Homo sapiens: one gene and its partners. The protein of the gene in region 4 purifies or fractionates together with the protein of the main gene of each other region. This does not show direct contact. Each region holds a gene or a part of one and is shown on either strand. Other genes may lie near its edges.

The links.
Region 1: the proteins of EXO5 (region 4) and PNPT1 purify together in Homo sapiens (affinity purification with mass spectrometry, with the first as the bait; one study listed by BioGRID). This does not show direct contact.
Region 2: the proteins of EXO5 (region 4) and SFXN2 purify together in Homo sapiens (affinity purification with mass spectrometry, with the first as the bait; one study listed by BioGRID). This does not show direct contact.
Region 3: the proteins of EXO5 (region 4) and AGK purify together in Homo sapiens (affinity purification with mass spectrometry, with the first as the bait; one study listed by BioGRID). This does not show direct contact.

The regions. Positions count from the first base shown.
Region 1 is NC_000002.12:55,668,977-55,673,344, forward strand, and holds part of PNPT1 (polyribonucleotide nucleotidyltransferase 1, mitochondrial precursor), read right to left. Parts: intron 4,104-4,368; coding exon 3,917-4,103; intron 3,071-3,916; coding exon 3,019-3,070; intron 2,401-3,018; coding exon 2,343-2,400; intron 1-2,342. UniProt on the Homo sapiens protein: RNA-binding protein implicated in numerous RNA metabolic processes. Catalyzes the phosphorolysis of single-stranded polyribonucleotides processively in the 3'-to-5' direction. Mitochondrial intermembrane factor with RNA-processing exoribonulease activity.
Region 2 is NC_000010.11:102,731,636-102,736,003, reverse strand, and holds part of SFXN2 (sideroflexin-2), read right to left. Parts: intron 4,282-4,368; coding exon 4,221-4,281; exon of another isoform or gene 4,197-4,220; intron 3,853-4,196; coding exon 3,786-3,852; intron 3,146-3,785; coding exon 3,096-3,145; intron 2,451-3,095; coding exon 2,401-2,450; exon of another isoform or gene 2,396-2,400; intron 143-2,395; coding exon 95-142; intron 1-94. UniProt on the Homo sapiens protein: Mitochondrial amino-acid transporter that mediates transport of serine into mitochondria. Involved in mitochondrial iron homeostasis by regulating heme biosynthesis.
Region 3 is NC_000007.14:141,557,910-141,562,277, reverse strand, and holds part of AGK (acylglycerol kinase, mitochondrial isoform 1 precursor), read right to left. Parts: intron 1-4,368. UniProt on the Homo sapiens protein: Lipid kinase that can phosphorylate both monoacylglycerol and diacylglycerol to form lysophosphatidic acid (LPA) and phosphatidic acid (PA), respectively. Does not phosphorylate sphingosine. Phosphorylates ceramide.
Region 4 is NC_000001.11:40,506,260-40,512,266, reverse strand, and holds the start of EXO5 (exonuclease V), read right to left. Parts: upstream 3,501-6,007; 5' UTR 3,359-3,500; exon of another isoform or gene 2,918-3,358; intron 2,817-2,917; 5' UTR 2,642-2,816; exon of another isoform or gene 2,535-2,641; 5' UTR 2,477-2,534; intron 1-2,476. UniProt on the Homo sapiens protein: Single-stranded DNA (ssDNA) bidirectional exonuclease involved in DNA repair. Probably involved in DNA repair following ultraviolet (UV) irradiation and interstrand cross-links (ICLs) damage.

The sequences.
Region 1 (4,368 bases), on a different chromosome or scaffold from region 4:
AAATATATTAGAAATCCCTACAAACTGTTTTCTATCTAATATTTGTCAAATGCTTTCATGAGCCAGGCACTTTATTGGTTTTTTAATGCTTTTAACTTTCATAATAACTTATGAACTAAATTTTATGATTCCCATTCTACAGAAGAAAAAACTGAGGCTTAAAGGGGTGAAGTACTGTGTAAGAGATAACCACTGAGTTTAAAAAAAAACATAAATAAAAAATAAAGAGGTGGAGTAAACTGCCTGAGACCACACAGGTAGTAACTGATACAGCTGTGACCTGAATAAAGATCTGTCAGCCTCAAAGGCTTATGGTTTTATTTTATTTTATTTTTAGCTTAGGGTTTAGATGTTAAGCTATTCTACCCTATCAATTAATTTATGCCAAGTTTTAAGTACTATTCTCTCATGTGTATGGTTTATTAAACATAACTTCAAAGTAACCAAAACACAAGAAATGGTCACAGAAAGATATATTAGATTGTATCTTCTTCAGAAAAGAATAATTTTTAATATTAGACTTTAATATCTTTTCTGCTTAACTGAGTTGTACTTGGAAAGGAAAACAATCAGTACCAAAATGTTTAAAATATCCTATCAACCCAGAGGGTCGTGAAGATATTCTACTATGTATAATACAAACAAAAAGTCACTATTCTTTTAAAATAAGACAATATTCGCTATAAAATTTCTTTCTTACCAAATAGGATGAAATGTAGTGAGAAAGGACTAAACATATTCAATGACAGTTACAATTAATGGCCTTAATATCAATGCTAACAGCACTTTTTTTTTTTTTTTTGAGATGGAGTCTTGCTCTATTGCCCAGGCTGGAGTGCAGTGGCGGTCTCAGCTCACTACAACCTCTGCCTAACAGGTTCAAGTGATTCTCATGCCTCAGCCTCCCAAGTAGCTGGGATTACAGGAGCCTGCCACCATGCCCGCCTAATTTTTGTATTTTTGGTAGAGATGGGGTTTCACCATATTGGCCAGGCTGGTCTTGAACTCCTGATCTCAAGTGATCCACCCACTTTGGCTTCCCAAAGTGCTGGGATTACAGGCATGAGCCACCACGCCTGGCCAGTTTTTTATCTTAAAATAAATATTCATGTGAGAGTATATTTGTCTATTAGAAAAATTAACAAAAACTATGTCATACTTCATTTATATTCAGTTTGTGTGAGGTTGGTATTATTACTATTATTTTTATTTATTTATTTATTTTTTTGAGACAGAGTCTCGCTCCGTTGCCCAAGCTGGAGTGCAGTGGCGCGATCTCGACTCGCTGCAAGCTCCACCTCCTGGGTTCACGCCATTCTCCTGCCTCAGCCTCCTGGGTAGCTGGGACCACAGGTGCCCGCCACCACGCCCGGCTAACTTTTTGTATTTTTAGTAGAGACAGGGTTTCACCGTATTAGCCAGGATGGTCTCGATCTCTTGACCTCGTGATCTGTCTGCCTCGGCCGCCCAAAGTGCTGGGATTACAGGCGTGAGCCACCGCGCCTGGCCAGAGGTTGATATTATACAGTAAGATCCTTTGCTTAATAATTTCTGGAGAGCTAAATTACCTAAGTTCTGTATCTTATGATTCCACTAGGTATTAAGAATAGCATCAGTTAACATTTATTGAACACTTACGGTGTGGCAGGCACAGATGTAAATGATTCACTCATTTAATCCCCATAAACCAGGTATTATTAACACTGCAATTTCACAGATCAAGAACTCAAGAATTTTAAAGAATATATTTGGGTTTTCAAATGATAAGATACCAGGTTACATTTCTTGTATGGTAGGAGTTTGATTCAGAAAAGATCAGGAACATTCACATTCAACATTTACTAGGTACCTACTCTGCATCAAATGTAGTGCTAGCTACATTCATAGAAGTTAATTTAGCAGTAACCTTGTGAGCTATCATTATTACAAGTTTATTGAAAATAAAGCTGAGAAGCAATGAGAGTAACATTTATTTGAGATCTTCAACTAAAGTTAAAAAAAAAAAAAGTCTATTATTTCTTTTAATGCTTTTAAAATTAAAAAATACATAGTAATAGCGGTTCTGTGCAAAGGGGACTTTCTCTTTCCCCGAAACAGTTCGGGGAAGCTTTGGAGAAGAGGTGGCATTTGAACCTTGGGTTAGAAGAAGACCACCTGCTATGAGAGAGCATTCTAGGTCTAGGGAACAGCAGCTGTAAAGTTGAAAGTCCTTTGAATTCTTCTTTTCCTACAGATGTGATGCCTTTCCTCTTTGACCTTTAATCCCAAGAAGCAAGAGTCAGGCCATGCCTTATTAAAGCTGCCCTCAGCAAAAAAATAAAATAAAATAAAATAAAATTTACCTTTTAGTTGTTCCTCCGTATCTAATCTTATTTTGTTAACAGCTTCATCTCTGGAAACCTAAAAGAAAGTTGAGGTTCAGTTATTACATATACATGACAACATTTAATATTTCTGTTTTCTAATTATTATACAATGAACACATTGTGAATTACTCTGATTTCTTTAATATTCTTTAAAATATTGGAATTGGTTCTTGATTTATGACAAATACTACATGTTAATTCATTCAAATACATTTGTACACTCCCCTAAAACTTATATTAAAAAGAAAAGAACTTTGGGTGGCCAAGGTGGGCAGATCACTTGAGGCCAGGAGTTTGAGACCAGCCTGGCCAACATGGCCGTCTCTACTAAAAATACAAAAGATAGCTGAGTGTGGTGGCGTGCACCTGTAATCCCAGCTACTTGGGAGGCTGAGGCATGAGAATCGCTGGAAGGCGAAAGTTGCAGTGAGCTGAGATCATGCCACTGCACACCAGCCTGGGCGACAGAGAGAGACTCTGTCTCAAAAACAAAACAAAACAAAAGAATGGAGAAACAATTAGGCTTTTGTTAGTTTTTCATTTAGAGATTTTTAATAAAAATAGGACTAGCATTCATAAAGAAAATTACATGAGTTATGACAAAAATGTATTCCTAGGGCAATTATGGAAGACAAAACTCAGGTATACCTACTTTGTCATGCTCGTAATCTGTAAAAACTGCATAGAGTCTCTCCATAGCAAGTCTATTTAAGCAGAAAATAAATGTTAGCATAATAATATCTGGAAACAAGAGGCAGTTTCTATTATAAACAAAACTGAAATATTTAATAATAATCAGCTAAAACTTTAATAAATACTTCAGAAAGAATTGAAAATTTATATTGCTATTTATCATTGCTAATCTGTTTACTATTTATGGTATAGAACACAAATTTCTTTCTCCCACCCTCCCAGGGGAAACCACATGTAGTATCCTGTTCTTTTCTTCTTAATTGTTCAATTAATTTCACCTTTCATATATTCTTTTTAACCTCTTCCTTTCTTCATTCTACCCATTTTGGCTCCATTATCACATGAAACTCTTTTGCTAGAAAGAGTTAATTTAATTTCCAACTCATGGCTGTGCAACTGACATTAAGGGAAAGTATTAACCTTTTCAATTTTTTCAAATAAAATAATTTTCCAGTGATTCATTTACATTTACTGAGTGTCTGCCTAACGTTCTAAGCACTGGGCATGTAACAGTGATTACCTCTGATTTCTTTTTGAGAATTCCAACAGTTTCCTTAGATATTCAAATATCTTAACGTTTTATTCTTTTTCCTAGACGTGGAGAGATGTGGTGCTTACCTGAATCTTGACCAATAAACACACTCTTTCATTTGAGATTCAAAGTTAGGTCTTACAAGAGTGATGTGGGCTTATCCTTTTTAAGGGAGTAAGCAGATATTTATGGGAATGACTCTTAAAACAGAAAAGTGCTATTTATGAAGTAATGCATGGGCAGTGCTTCCATGGGAAGTTTCTCTCCCACGAGGAAATTAAATCTGATGACAATTTCATATTTTCATTTGCACAGATGTTCTTACTTATGAGTATATTTCACAATCTCTGGCGAAGGGGTAAATAACTTCTGAGGTGTCCTCTTGGTAACACCAGTTTCTTTTACCAACTGCTGAATGCCCTGAATTATTTGTTGGGTATATTTCACTCCCACTTTGATAGCATGGCAAAAGTCCTGCTGTAAAATGTTCTCTGCAGAGGCTTCCAACATGACTATTTAAAGGAAAAAGAAAAAAAAAATGACTGCCATCGAAGCTCTTAGTAATATAACATTTTCAAATACCATGACATGACATAAATATTATGGATCAATTTTACTTCTTAGTGATAGATCCACCTTGATTTCTTTCCTCAGAATCAACATACTTCCAAAATGTAAGCAGCGGTAAATGAATAAAGACACCTTGATATCTGTATTTAGGTTTACATTCTCCTTAAGTTTAAGGAGGGATTTCCCATAAAAAATGAAACAGAAAAA
Region 2 (4,368 bases), on a different chromosome or scaffold from region 4:
GCCCCTTCCCTGTCTCCTTCTGGACAGCAGGCAGATCAGGGAGCGCGCTGGCAGCATGGTCAATTAAACCAAGTAAGGAATGAACAGCAGATACCATTTCTGTGGGAAAAGCCCACACGCCACTGGCACCATGAAGATGAGGCTGCAAGAAAGGAGAAACCAAAGCATCAGGGGACATCTCCCCACAGGCCCGTCCATCCCCCATCCCCAAGGGAAAGGAGCAATGCCCAGGCACCTGGCCTGCCTTCCCAGCTGGCACCATATCCTCTCCCTCCAACCCTCCTCCTGTTCCCGCAGTGCGAGGATACTCATTCTGGCAGGGGGATAAAACCAGTACCCTCCTGACCCCCATCACTCATTCCCACCCTTACTGCATTGTTCAAGCAGAGGAAGAAGACAATGAAGTAAACAGGGACTGTGAGCAGCAGGCCTAAGGAGCACAGGCACTGCTGGCATCGAGCGAAAGGAGCGACGAGGAGGGAGAGGAGAAACTTGGAGGGGGAGGAGCAACATGGAGGGGGAAGAGCGACATGGAGGGGAGGAGCATCATGGAGGGAGAGGAGGGACATGGAGGGGGAGGAGCGACATGGAGGGACAGGAGCAACTTGGAGGAACAGCATGGAGGGTGGGGAGCGACTTGGAGAGGGAAGAATGACTTGGAGGTTGAGGAGCAACTTGGATGGGGAGGAGCGACTTGAAGGGGGAGGAGTGACTTGGAGGGAAGGAACTACTTGGAGTAGGAAGAACTACTTGGACAGGGAGGAGCAACATGGAGAGGGAGAAGGACATGGAGGGGAGGAGCAACATGGAGAGGGAGGAAGGACACAGAGGGGAGGAGGGATGAGGAGGGAGAGGAGCAACTTGGAGGGGGAGGATTGACTTGTATCGGGAGGAGTGACCAGGATGGGGAGGGGCACTTTGGAGTGGGGGAGGGGCACTATGGAGGGGGAGGAGTGAGTCTGTGGATTCTGAGACCTGCTTCTTTATTGGTTGAACACCTGGGCTGTCAGAGCACAGTGAAAGGCAGTTTCTCCAGCTTCACTGTGCATATAACTTCAGGAGCTTATTAAAATGCCAGGTGCCAACTGAGGGGGTCTGGGGAAGGACTTCAGAGTCTTTACTTCTAACAAGTTATCAGAGGATGCCAACGATGCTGGCATGGACCAGGGTTTGGGAGGCAAGGTCTTACAGGACGCGGGACTCTGACAGACCTGGGTTGGTATCCCAGTTTTACCACTTACTAGCTGTGCCATCTTGGACAAGTTACCTCAGAGACACAGAGGGAGGACAACCTACTTTTTAGGGCTACTGCAGACCACTTTGCAGTGCCTACTTTGCAGGGTTACTGTGAGGATTCAATGAGATATGTATGTAAAGCACCCAGCCCATGGTAACTACTCAATTAGCAGAAGTTGGTATAGCATAATGTTAGACTGTTGATCAAATCTCAGCTCCAGCAGTTACCAGCTATATACCCTTGGGCAAGTTTCTTACTCTGTCTAAGTCTCAGTTTCTTCATTTGTAAAAGGAGATGATAATAATATGTAGATTTCTAAGGCTGGGAGAATTAAGTGAAATTATAGATATGAAACACTGGGTTCAGTGGGGACACAGAGAAAATATACAGTCAGTGTTAGCTGTTAGTGATGCTGTCATTAGTCTCGTGGCCCTGAAATGCATGGTGAACGCTAGGACATCTCCAGTTAATGGCAGATACCTAAGAACCCTGACGTGACTGGTGGCATTTCCCTCCTGTGTGAGTCTGGGACACATGACAGTCCCAGCCAAAGCTATGTCTCCTCGTTCTTATCTCTTCTGTAAAACTGCTCCAGACAGCCAGGCGCAGTGGCTCATGCCTATAATCCCAGCAATTTGGGAGGCCGAGGCAGGTGGATCACTTGAGGTCAGGAGTTCGAGACCAGCCTGGCCAACATGATGAAATACAAAAATTAGCAAGGCATCATGGTGCGTGCCTGTAATCCCAGCTACTCAGGAGGCTGAGGCAGGAGCATTGCTTGAACCTGGGAGGTGGAGGTTGCAGCGAGCTGAGGCTGCGCCATTGCACTCCAGACTGGGCGACAGAGCGAGACTCCATCTCAAAAAAAAAAAAGCAAAAAACAAAAAAATTGCTCCAGACTTAAGGTCAAAGGAGAGACCCTGGGATGGGAGGGCACCTCAGCACTGGACTTCCTACATGGACACGTGCATAAAGTCTAGCCAGCCTGATGCCCTCACAAAAGATGGGGTGAGAGCTTTCCAGATGGACCACAGGTATTCTGAGCTTGACCACTTTTAAAGTCAGGTAAAGGAGTACACGTTCTCCAACACGGGCTAGACAAGACGACACATCTTGAGTGCTCCAGCCACGCAGAACCCAAATCATCAAAATATGATACTTACAAGCACCCGCTCAGCATGACCTGCAATGGGGCGTGCAGGACCTTGACTTTCTGTATAAAAACAAATAAAAGACAGATCCACATGGTACTTCTATGCCTTAAGGTGAACCCCAACCCTGCTCTGCCATGGATCAGCCAGCTAGAAAAGCCCACAGGTGGCTGGGCGCAGTGGCTCATGCCTGTAATCCCAGCACTTTGGGAGACCGAGATGGGCAGATCACAAGGTCAGGAGATCGAGACCATCCTGGCTAACACAGTGAAAACCCGTCTCTACTAAAAATACAAAAAAAATAGCTGGGCGTGGTGGCAGGCACCTGTAGTCCCAGCTGCTCGGGAGGCTGAGGCAGGAGAATGGCATGAACCCAGGAAGCGGAGCTTGCAGTGAGCCAAGATCGCGCCACTGCACTCCAGCCTGGGCGACAGAGCGAGACTCCATCTCAAAAGAAAAAAGAAAAACCCACAGGCAAGGACCCCCTGGCCCTTAAAGAAGGCCTTGTTCTCTGCAGACCAGGTAAGGAAACTGGCCATGGTATATCTAAACAGGAGGTCAGTGGAGATTGGTGTGGGCTTGAGTGAGATGACAGCATGGTAGCTAAAGGGAAGGATGGGTGGGGGAGGGCAGGTCAGGTATCCCTAGGGACAGATGTGGCTGGACGCACTCTGGGCAGGGAAAATGCCAAAGCAAACCCTACATACCTGCATGAAGTGCAATTTCTCAAGCCTTTCCATGATGACTGGCAGCAAGACTGGAAGAGACCAGGGAGAAGCTGAGGGGAGGGCTGGGAGGCTCTCCCCAGGACTCCTTCTGAAGTCAGACCAGGAACCAAGTGGTTCCCTCTCCTTCAGCAGAAGCTCCAGAAAATACTTACCACTAGGCAGAACAGAAGAGCAAGTAGGCATGACCACCCCCAAACTTTCTCCCCAAAGTCCTGGCAGAACAGTGCTTCCCAAGCTTCTCAACCTGCACACTTGCAATATCAGGAAAACATGTGCTGCTAGGTCCAAAGCTACCTTCTCAAAACTCAAAAATGTATTTGTACGTTCGTGCAAACAAATTTTGCAATACACCCACTGCTGGAAGCAAACCAAAGCAGGGAATTTATTTTCTCTATCACTCTCCCTAGCACCCCACACTGTGTCTAACATTAAACACAAGGGCTTGACAAGTATTAATAAAATGAAAATAACTTTCTACCCCAAACCTTGGATGAACTGATGTTCTAGGAACTAGTGTGGTTCTTCTAGGCTTACAGCAATCAAGCAAAGCAGTTTGAGAAGCATGGCTGTAGAAGGTGGGCCCCACCTCCCACCCAAAAGCTGAGTGTGGCTGAGACCTCCACCCTGTGTCACAGGCTTCCCCAGGATGGAAGGGCTTCCCCATCTTACTCATCCCAGGAGCTGACATGGTGATCCGAGAAATAACTACTTGGGTGATGCCTATGGCCGCAGCTCTCTGAGGGCAGAAAATAGTAAGTTGTCAGAAATGATGTATCCAGTGTACATGTGCTGCACCAGGGGGCTGGGTCAGCATCATGGCCAAGTCTGAGATGGTAAAGGGGAAGGGAAGGACCCTCCAGTTGCTGAGTGACCTCACTTTATCCCCTCCCACCTAGCCAGGTTTTTATGGACCAGAAATGATGGAGAAAAGAGAGAAGGGGCCTGTTCTGAACAGAGAAACATGGGGAAAATTTGATAGGGAGTGAGGATGGAGCCAGAAAAGGCTTCTCAATCCTATATTGGTGCCTACTCTGACCACTAAGGAGGGGACAGGGTATGAGAGGGAATTCCCTCCTCCCACCCCAAAGGGAGGCCTCTGCTCACCCGGGAATGACCAATCTCATTTTCATTCCTGTCCTTCACGCAGATTCCCTTTATGAGCTCCCTAAACACAGACAGGAGTTAATGGACTTGGGAAAGGGGTGATGGAAGCCTGCCAGCCACATGACATGCCAGGGGACCAAGGCCAGGC
Region 3 (4,368 bases), on a different chromosome or scaffold from region 4:
AGGACATTACCGCAACTCATGACAGAGTAACACTGCTCCCGAGAAGGAGAAAACAACAGCTAATACCACTGCCTGCAACATCCTGGCTAACCAAAGGTCCTGAGTCTATCCATGTGACAACTTCACCGCTTGCATAACCAGCATTCAAGAAAGCCAGCACACTAAACCTATCTATAGCCAAGGATCCTCACAGAGTCTACATCATTCCCCTGCCACCTCCACCACAGCAGGTGCTGGTACCCATGGCTGAGAGACCTGAATATGGATTACATCACAGGACTCTTTTCAGACATTCCCCAGCACCAGCCTAGAGCCCGCTATCCCTGCTGGATGGCTAGATCCAGAAGACCAGTAACAATCACTGCACTTTGGTTCTCAGGAAGCCCCATCCCTAGGAGGAGCAGGAGAGCACCACATCAAGATATCGCCTCATGGGACAAAAGAATCTGAAGAGCAGGCCTTGAGTTCCAGATCCTTCTGCTTGTGGGTAGTTTCTCACAGCAGAGACAAAATTGCAGCACTGGACACAGTAGGGAAAGTTGCACCTAAACCCCAATAGGCAGGCAGCCTCTGTGATCACATAGGGCCTTGGAGAAGAGGTCCTTGTTCCCTACTGGCACTCCACCACAGAGGAACTCAAACAAATCAGCAAGAAAAAAAAAATAATTCCATCAAAAAGTGGCCTAAGGACATGAATAGACAATTCTCAAAAGATATACAGATGGCCAAGAAGTATATGAAAAAAATCTCAATATCACTAATCATCAGGGAAATGCAAATTAAAAAAAATAATGAGATACCACCTTACTCCTGCAAGAATGGCCACAATTAAAAAATTAAAAAATAACAGATGTTGGCATGGATATGGTGAAAAGGGAACACTTACGCTGCTGGTGGGAATGTAAATTAATACAACCACTATGGAAAACAGTATGGAGATTCCTTAAATAACTAAAAGCGGAACTACCATTAAATCCAGCAATCCCACTACTGGGTATCTACCCAAAGGAAAATAAGTCATTATATGAAAAAGACACTTGCATATGCATGTTTATAGCAGCAAAATTTGCAATTGCAGAAATATGGAACCAACCTAAATGCCCATCAACCAACAAGTGGCTAAAGAAAATGTGGTATATATACACCATGGAATACTACTCAGCCATAAAATAAACTGAAATAATGGGCCGGGCGCGGTGGCTCACGCCTGTAATCCCAGCATGTTGGGAGGCCGAGGCGGGCGGATCACGAGGTCAGGAGATCGAGACCATCCTGGCTAACACGATGAAACCCCGTCTCTACTAAAAATACAAAAAATTAGCTGGGTGCGGTGGCAGGCACCTGTAGTCCCAGCTACTTGGGAGGCTGAGGCAGAATGGCATGAAGCCGGGAGGCGGAGCTTGCAGTGAGCCGAGATCGTGCCACTGCACTCCAGCCTGGGCGACAGAGCGAGACTCCGGCTCAAAAAAAAAAAAAAAAAAAGAAAGAATGGCACTTGCAGCAACCTGGATGGAGTTGGAGACCATTACTCTAAGCGAAGTAACTCAGGAATGGAAAGCCAAATATCATATATTCTCATTTATAAGTGAGAGCTAAGCTATGAGGGCACAAAGGCATGAGAATGATATAAGGGACTTTGGGGACTCAGGGGGAAAGGTGGGAGTGGGGTGAGGAATAAAAGACTACACACTGGGTACAGTGTACGCTGCTCGGGTAACGGGTGCACCAATATCTCAGAAATCACCACTAAAGAACTTATCTATGTAACCACAAACCACCACCTGTTCCCCAAAAACTATTAAAATAAAACAAAATTTGTAAAAACCATAATAATAAAATGACCTGATGGGGGAAAAAAAAAAGAAGAAGAAGAAAGAAAGGACAAGGCAGCTTCCACTCAAGAAGACTACAGGGTAAGATCTTCTCAGGGTAAAAACAAGTTTGGTATAAAGAATGTGAGCACTGTTCTGTGAAAAGGTTGGGGATATATAGGCAAAAAAAAAAACGGAGGGAGGGCAACAAAAGGAAAAGTATCACAGCATAATAAAGGTCATTTATGATGAGCCCACAGCTAACATCATACCCAATTTTGAAATACTGGAAGTTTTTCTTCTAAGATCAGGAATAAGACAAAGATGTCCACTCATCACTTCTACTCAACATAGCACAGGAAGTTCTAGCCAGAGCAATGAGGCAAGAAAAAGAAATAAAGGCATCCAAACTGGAAAGGAAGAAGTAAAATTATCTCTATTCACAGATGACATATCTTATATGTAGAAACCCTAAAGATTCTACACCAAAAAAAAAAGCTGTTAGAACTAATAAATTCAGCAAAGTTGTAGGATACACAACACACAAAAATCAGTTATATTTCTATATCCTAAGAATGAACAATCTGAAAAGGAAATTAAGAACACAATCCCATTAACAATTGCATCAAAAGAATAAAATACTTAGGAATAAACTTAAGCAAGTAGGTAAAAGACTTATACGCTAAAAACAAAACACTGCTGAAAGAAATTAAAGAGTACAATAAAAAGACATCCCGTGTTCATAAATTAGAAGACTTAATATTGTTCAAATGTCTATTCTACAAAACAATGTACAGATTCAATGCAATCCCAATGGCATTTTTTGCAAAAATAGAAAAAACATCCCAAAATTCATATGGAATCTCAAGAAATCCCCAAACATCCAAAACAATCTTGAAAAAGAACAAGGATGGAAGTCTTATATGTACTAAATTTAAAATATATTACAAAGCAATAGTAATCAAAACAGTGTGGTATTGGCATAAATACAGATATATAGACTAATGAACAACAGAAAGCCCAGAAATAAATCCTCATCTATATGGTCAAATGATCTTCAATAGGGATGCCAAGACCACGCAATGGGGAAATGACAGTCTCTTCAACAAATGGTAATGGAAAAACTAGATATCCATATGGAAAATAATGAAGCTGAACCCCTATCTTATACCATATAAAAAAAATTAACTCAAAATCTGTTAAAGACCTAAATGTAAGACCCAATATAAAACTCCTAGAAGAAAACATAGGGAAAAGCTTCATGACACTGGATTTAGCAATGATTTCTTGAATATAACACCAAAAGCAGAGGCAAACAAAAGCAAAAGTAGACAAATGGGCCTTAACGAAACTAAAAACAATATATATCAAAGGACATGATCAATAGTGTAAAAAGGCCAGCTACAGAATAGGAGACAATATATTGAAAATTCTATATCTCACAAGGGATTAATATCTGGAATCCATAAAGAACTCCTACAGGCCAACAACAACAAAACTCAATTAAAAATGGAAAAAGGACTTGAACAGACATTTCTCCAAAGATTTTTAAATGGCCAACATGCATGTGAAAAGATGCTTGACTTCCTTAATCATTAGAAAAATGCAAACCAAAACCACAATGACATATCACCTCACACTCATAAGGATAGCCCATATCAAAGAAACAGAAAATAACAAGTGTTGATGAGGGCGTGGAGAAACTGAAAACCTTGTACACCGTTTGTGGGATTGTAAAATGATGAGCCACAATGGAAAACAGTATGAAAGCTCTTCAAAAAATTAAAAATAGACTACCATATGATCTAGCAATCCCCACTTCTGGGCATATATCCAAAATAATTAAAAACAGGATCTCCAAGAGGTATCTGTACACTCAAGTTAATTATAGCATGTTTCACAATAGTCAAGAGGTAAAAGCAACCAAAATGTCCATTGACAGATGTAAAGACCATACCTCTTTAAACGTAAAGAATATATCTTTACATTTAGAGATAATATAGGCCAGGCGCAGTGGCTCACACCTGTAATCCCAGCACTTTCAGAGGCCAAGGCGGGCAGATCACCTGAGGTCAGGAGTTCGAGACCAGCGGGCCAACATGGTTAAAAAAAAAAAAAACCATCTCTACTAAAAATGGAAAAATTAGCCAGGCATGGTGCACGCGCCTGTAGTCCCAGCTGCTTGGGAGGCTGAGGCAAGAGAATCACTTGAACCTCGGAGGCAGAGGTTGCAGTGAGCCAAGATCACACCACTACACTCTAGCCTAGGTGACAGAGCAGGACTCCGTCTCAAAAAAAAAAGAAAAGGTAAAGATAATATAAACATTATAGACATTATAAGTGAAATAAGCCAACCACAAAAATACAAATACTATATGACTCACTGACACAAAGTATAAAGTGGTCAAATTCCTAGAAACAGAAAGTAGAATAGTGGTTGTCAAGGACAGCTGGGTTGGGGCGGGAATGGGCAGTTGTTCAATGGGTACAGAGTTTCAGTTTTGCAAGATGAAAAAGTTCTAGAGATCTGTTGAACAACAATGTGAATATACTTAAC
Region 4 (6,007 bases):
ATAGCTTTTCTTTAATCCAGGAAACAAAGACCACACATTATGTTTGATTGTTTTGTCTTTCAAGTATTTTTTAATCTTAAGAAACTGGGCGGCCAAGCGCAGTGGTTCACGCCTGTAATCCCAGCACTTTGGGAGGCCAAGGCGGGCGGATCATGAGGTCAGGAGATCGAGACCATCCTGACTAACACGGTGAAACCTGTCTCTACTAAAAGTACAAAAAATTAGCCGGGCTTGGTGGTGGGTGCCTGTAGTCCGAGCTACTTGGGAGGCTGAGGCAGGAGAATGGCGTGAACCCAGGAGGCGGAGCGTGCAGTGAGCTGAGATCCCACCACTGTGCTCCAGCCTGGGCAACAGAGCGAGACTCCGTCTCAAAAAAAAAAAAGAAAAAAGAAAAAAGAAACTAGGCAAATTATCTTATGAAGATACTCTTTTTAAGCCTTCCTTCTAACCCCACATATCTAACCTGCATAGAGAGTAAGCAAAACAAGATACAACCAGTCCATTAGTGTTTGACTTTGAGTGCCAGGAAAATAAATAATTTGACATAGAATTTTAGCTGATAGAGATAGCTATGAACCAAATGTCCCCTTCTTGCTATTCTAATAAGCAGTGAAATAAGGTGAATGCACCAACTCCTATGTCAAAGCGTAAGAAGTGATGCCCTGAAAACGTCATTAATATCAGTTGTGGTTGTGTTTAACTGATTTTTAAATAGTCTAAATGTCACTAATGAAAGAAAACATAGATAGCTAGAAGAAAAGTTATCTGCAATGAATAAAAATAATACAATAGTAAGACTTTTGCTTATAGAGTATCCTACAACATTATTGCTTTACAGGATATTTCAATAGTAACAAAATACAGAAGCTGTGCATTTACACAAGTGTTATAAACTGTCAATGTGCTTTAAATAATTTCAAGAAACTTTATTTCAACTATGAAGTCTCTGAAAATTGGAAAGAATATTTACCCTTCACCAAGAAACTAAAGTTAAAGGGCATTTATTTTTTCTTTTCTTTTATTTTATTTTTTGAGACAGAGTCTCACTCTTTCACCCAGGCTGGAGTGCAGTGGCGGGATCTCAGCTCACTGCAAGCTCTGCCTCCCGGGTTCACGCCATTCTCCTGCCTCAGCCTCCCGAGTAGCTGGGACTACAGGCACCCGCCACCGCGCCCAGCTAATTTTTGTATTTTTTAGTAGAGACGGGGTTTCATCGTGTTAGCCAGGATGGTCTCGATCTCCTGACCTCGTGATGCACCCGCCTCGGCCTCCCAAAGTGCTGTGATTACAGGCGTGAGCCACCGCACCCAGCCCTAAAGGGCATTTATAACACATATGCTATGAGGTATTTGTGAGGGTGAGGGGGAACTCCAAGTCCAAATCAATAACCTTAAAATATTTTATTTCAAATATCTAGACCTGGCTGTCCAATATGGTAGCCATTAGTAGCCACTAGCCATATGTGGCTACTTAAATTTAATTAAAATAAAATAAAATTCACATCTCAGTTGCACTAGCCATATATTAAGTGCTCAGTAGCTACATCTGGCTGGTGGATACAGATAAGGCACAGATACAGAACATTCCCTGATCACAGAAAGCTCTACTGAACAGCATAGAGTTAGACTATTTCCTGTGTACACATTAACTCCCCAAAGAGAGAGGAAGCTCCTGAAATGTATGGAGTTCCTACTTGTTTTACATACAACATTGAGAACAGGTAGTTCTAAACAGGGAAGTGAAATGTCTTTTGGAGAAGATACAAAGCAGGGCATTCTCTGTGAAAGTATTCATCTATAAGAATAAAACAGTACACTAGGGATGGATGACTGATGCTCAGATGTGTCTGGGACTTTCCTACGCAGAAAAGAATCCAGAAGAGAGCATAATGCAGTGCATTGTGTCCCAAATTGTAGTTTGTATGTCTGACACGAGACGATTTTACATAGCACATGGACCAACATTTTTAGATACACCTTAGAATAACTATACTGTTATTGGAGCAGCCATCAAATGGCTAATTTCACAGATATTGTTTCTTAGGACAAGTTTGATTTTTATAAAAAAAAAAAGTAAGTAAAAACATAGAATAATACAGGTAGTACACAGGTATGGCAAAATTGTTAGGTAGTAAGTGAATGGGATGCTGGGAAACAGCATAATGCCAAGAGTCTGGGAGTCCTACAGATATGGATTCTAAACCTAATCCTGAGTAGTTCGGTAGCATTTAGTAGTATGCTACTTGCCTTTTGAGTAAGCTTGGACAAGGTTCTAGTTTTCCTGAAGTTACTGACACATTTTTAAAATACCTACTAACCCTACTGAGATATCCGACCATTGAGTGATAACATATAGTACGCATATTAGCACTCGATGAAGATAGATCTCCTTCTTTTTCCCCAAGGAAGAGATGAGAGAGTGTATCGATTCCCCCTGACAAAGGAGATGAAACTTTAGAAGAGAAACTCCTATTCACCTGTGACTTCGTTGATCTTCCTCCTCATAGGGAAGGCCAGAATGCTGAAATGACAAGGCTAGGGAAGAGAAAGAAGTTCTGAAAGACCAGGTCTGCATTAAAGAACCTAAATTAGCAACTTAGGTCCTTGCTATGGTAGAACCGGAACTTCTGGTCCTTTCTTACCTGACCATTCCCTCACGTTGGGTGTTTTCTCCTCTCACATTGACACTGCACAGACTGTTACCCACCCCAGATCCTAGGTTACATAACGCTCGCCTCTCTCCTGGGGCAAACTCTCTCCATGATTTCTTCGTTCCCCCGTACTCTAGATGCAATGACTTGATCCAATCCCTGCTCCCTGAAAGTAAAAGGGTCAGACATAACCAAGATCCCCAAGGAGCTCCGAGATCAGTTCCCTCTTCCAGCTCCATTCTCAACCCAGCAGCTCAAGCAAGAGACCTTATGACAGCGGCTCTTTCTCTCAGATGGGTTACTGCCTTCTGCAGAATTGCCGATGGCAACATCCTGACTTGTTCAGTGCGGCCCGGACTTGTGGGCTCCGCGGGCGTTTGCCTTCAGGGAAGATCTTTCCTCTGGCCCTAAAGCACTGTCTCCCAGGGAGTGCCATGCATGCCCTAAAGTGTACTGAGCACTTCCTACAGTTCTGGCAGAGCCAGGAATAAGAACAGGGAGCCGTCCACCTCGGGAAGGAGTCCCGGCCAACAGCACTGTGTTCCGAGGGCGAAGGTCCAGAACGGGAACCCGGCCTGTGAGGGGAGACGAGACGAGCCGCTTCCCGGGAGCCGCGCCCACCAAGGGAGGGAGACGCGGCGATCGCAGGGACAGAACCCTAAGCTCCGAAACGCAGCCTCCCAGCCCATTCTCCGGCCTTCCCCTAACCTCTGATACTCCTCCGAACCTCGGACTCCACCTGGTTTCGCCGCGGCCTCGGAGCTGCTCCCGGACGCTCCCGGCGAGGAGACTGAGGAAGCCGGGCAGAGCGCGCTGCCGGAGCGGACTACACAGTCGGCCCGCCACTCGCAAAAAAGCCGCCCAGAGCCCAGTCCCAGAGTGCCCCGCGGCTGCCCACGGACCGCCTTCCCAGAGGCCCTCGCGGCGCCGCCTACCTCGCGAGGCTGCGGCTGGGGCAGAAATCCGTCTCTGTGAGCGGAGGAGGGTGTGCTTATGCGAGAGCAGGTTTTGGGAGCTCACTAAAGCAGGTCAGTCCCTCTGTTTGCGCCGTTGTCTGTGGGTCGTTTAATTCCGGGCGCAGCTGATCTGTAACTTCCCTCACTGGCGAGGTCTCCCAGTTACCACCGGGACAATCCGAGCAAGGTCTGGGCCCCTCGCTGCCCCCGGTGAAGTGCCGCGTCTCCGCTTGGCCATCCGTGGATTCAGCATCCCCACCTTAGCACCTCCCGCCGGCTTTTCCATTGAGAGCAAAACCACGAACTCACTTTTGAGAGATGCTGGCGCTCCCCTCATCAATATTTCTTTTTTTTTTTCTGTTTGCTTACTTTTAACTAACCTTTTATTGATAAATATAACACAATTTTATTCTGAAATATAAACCAAAGATAAGTATAATTATGAACAGCCAAGTCATTAGAGCGAAAAAAGAATAGTGTCAGGTTCTTCACAGATACACTTCCTGAGAAAACCACTAGCCCGACTTTTATAACACTTTGCTTTTCTTATTTATATTTATTTATTTATTTATTTTACCAAAAGCAGATACTTGACTCTTTGCTTTTCTTTACGGTTTATCACGCATACTTGAAAACTGGATTTATGACAAAGGTGGCATCATACAGCCATGGAGAAAAGATGGTCTATTCAGTGAAGGTTCTATGACAATATGAAGGCCGGGCACGGTGGCTCACGCCTGTAATCCCAGCACTTTGGGAGGCTGAGGTGGGCGGATCACGAGGTTAAGAGATCGAGACCATCCTGGCCAACATGGTGAAACCCTGTCTCTACTAAAAAGTACAAAAATTAGCTGGGTGTGGTGGCACACACCTGTAGTCCCAGCTATTCAGGAGGCTGAAGCAGGAGAATCGCTTGAACCGGGAGGCGGAGGTTGCAGTGAGCGGAGATCACACCACTGCACTTCAGCCTGGGCAACAGAGGGAGACTCCGTCTCAAAAAAAAAAACAAAACAGAAAACAGGACCTCTATCTCTCATTTCATCACAAAAATCAATTGTAGCTGGATTAAGACCTAAATGTGAAATCCTAAACTATAAAGTCTTCAGAATATAATATAGGAAAATATCTTTGGACTTCAGAATAGGTAAATATTTTAAAACAAAAATAGAAAAACATTAAATTGGCCAGGCATGGTGGCTCATGCCTGTAATACCAACACTTTGGGAGGCCCAGGTAGGCGGATCACTTGAGGTCAGGAGTTGAGACCAGCCTGGCCAACATAGTGAAACCCCGTTTCTAGTAAAAATACAAAAAATTAGCCAAGTGTGGTGGCAGGTGCCTGTAATCTCAGCTACTTGGGAGGCTGAGGCAGGAGAATCACTTGAACCTGGGAGGCGGAGTTTGCAGTGAGCCGACAACAGGCCACTGCACTCCAGCCTGGGTGATAAAGTGAGACTCTGTCTCAAAAAAAAAAAGGAAAAAAAGAAAGAGAAAAAAGGAAAGAAAAAGAAAGAAAGAGAAAGAAAGAAAAGAAAAGAAAGAAAGAGAAACATTAAATTAAGACAACTACAGGCTGAGTGCAGTGGCTCACACACCTGTAATCCTAGAACTCTGGGAGGCCGAAGTGGGTGGATCCCTTGAGCTCAGTTCAGAAACCAGCTGGGGTAACATGGTGAAAACACGTCTCTACAAAAAATACAAAAATTAGCTGGGGGTGGTGATACGTGCCTGTAGTCCCAGCTACTCTGGTGCGTCAGTTGGGAAAATTTTGAAGTGACTTGTGTTTTAGATAATATTATCAATCAATTATAGGTCTCCTGAGTGTCATAATGATTTTGTGGTTATGTAGGAAAATGTTCTTTTTCTTAGAAATATGTAAGTTGAGGCCAGGTACGGTGGCTCTCGCCTGTAATCCTAGCACTTTGGGAGGCCGAGGCGGGCGGATCACCTGAAGTCAGGAGTTCAAGACCAGCCTGGCCAACATGGTGAAACCCTGTCTCTACTAAAATACAAAAATTAGCCGGGCATGATGGCAGGTGCCTGTAATCCTAGCTACTCGGGAGGCTGAGATGGGAGAATCGCTTGAAACCGGGAGATGGTGGTTGCAGTGAGCCGAGATCATGCCACTGCACTCCAGCCTGGGTGGCTGACTGAGACTCTTGTCTCAAAAAAAAAAAAAAAAAAAAATGGAATTTAAGTGTATTAAATAGTCTGTTCTCATGCTGCTAATAAAGACATACCTGAGATTGGGTAATTTATAAAGGAAAGAGATTTAATTGACTCACGGCTCCACATGGCGGGGGAGGCCTCACAATCATGGAGGAAGGTGAAGGAGGAGCAAAGTCACCTCTTACATGGTGGCAGGCAAGAGAGAACATGTGCAGGGGAACACACCTTTATA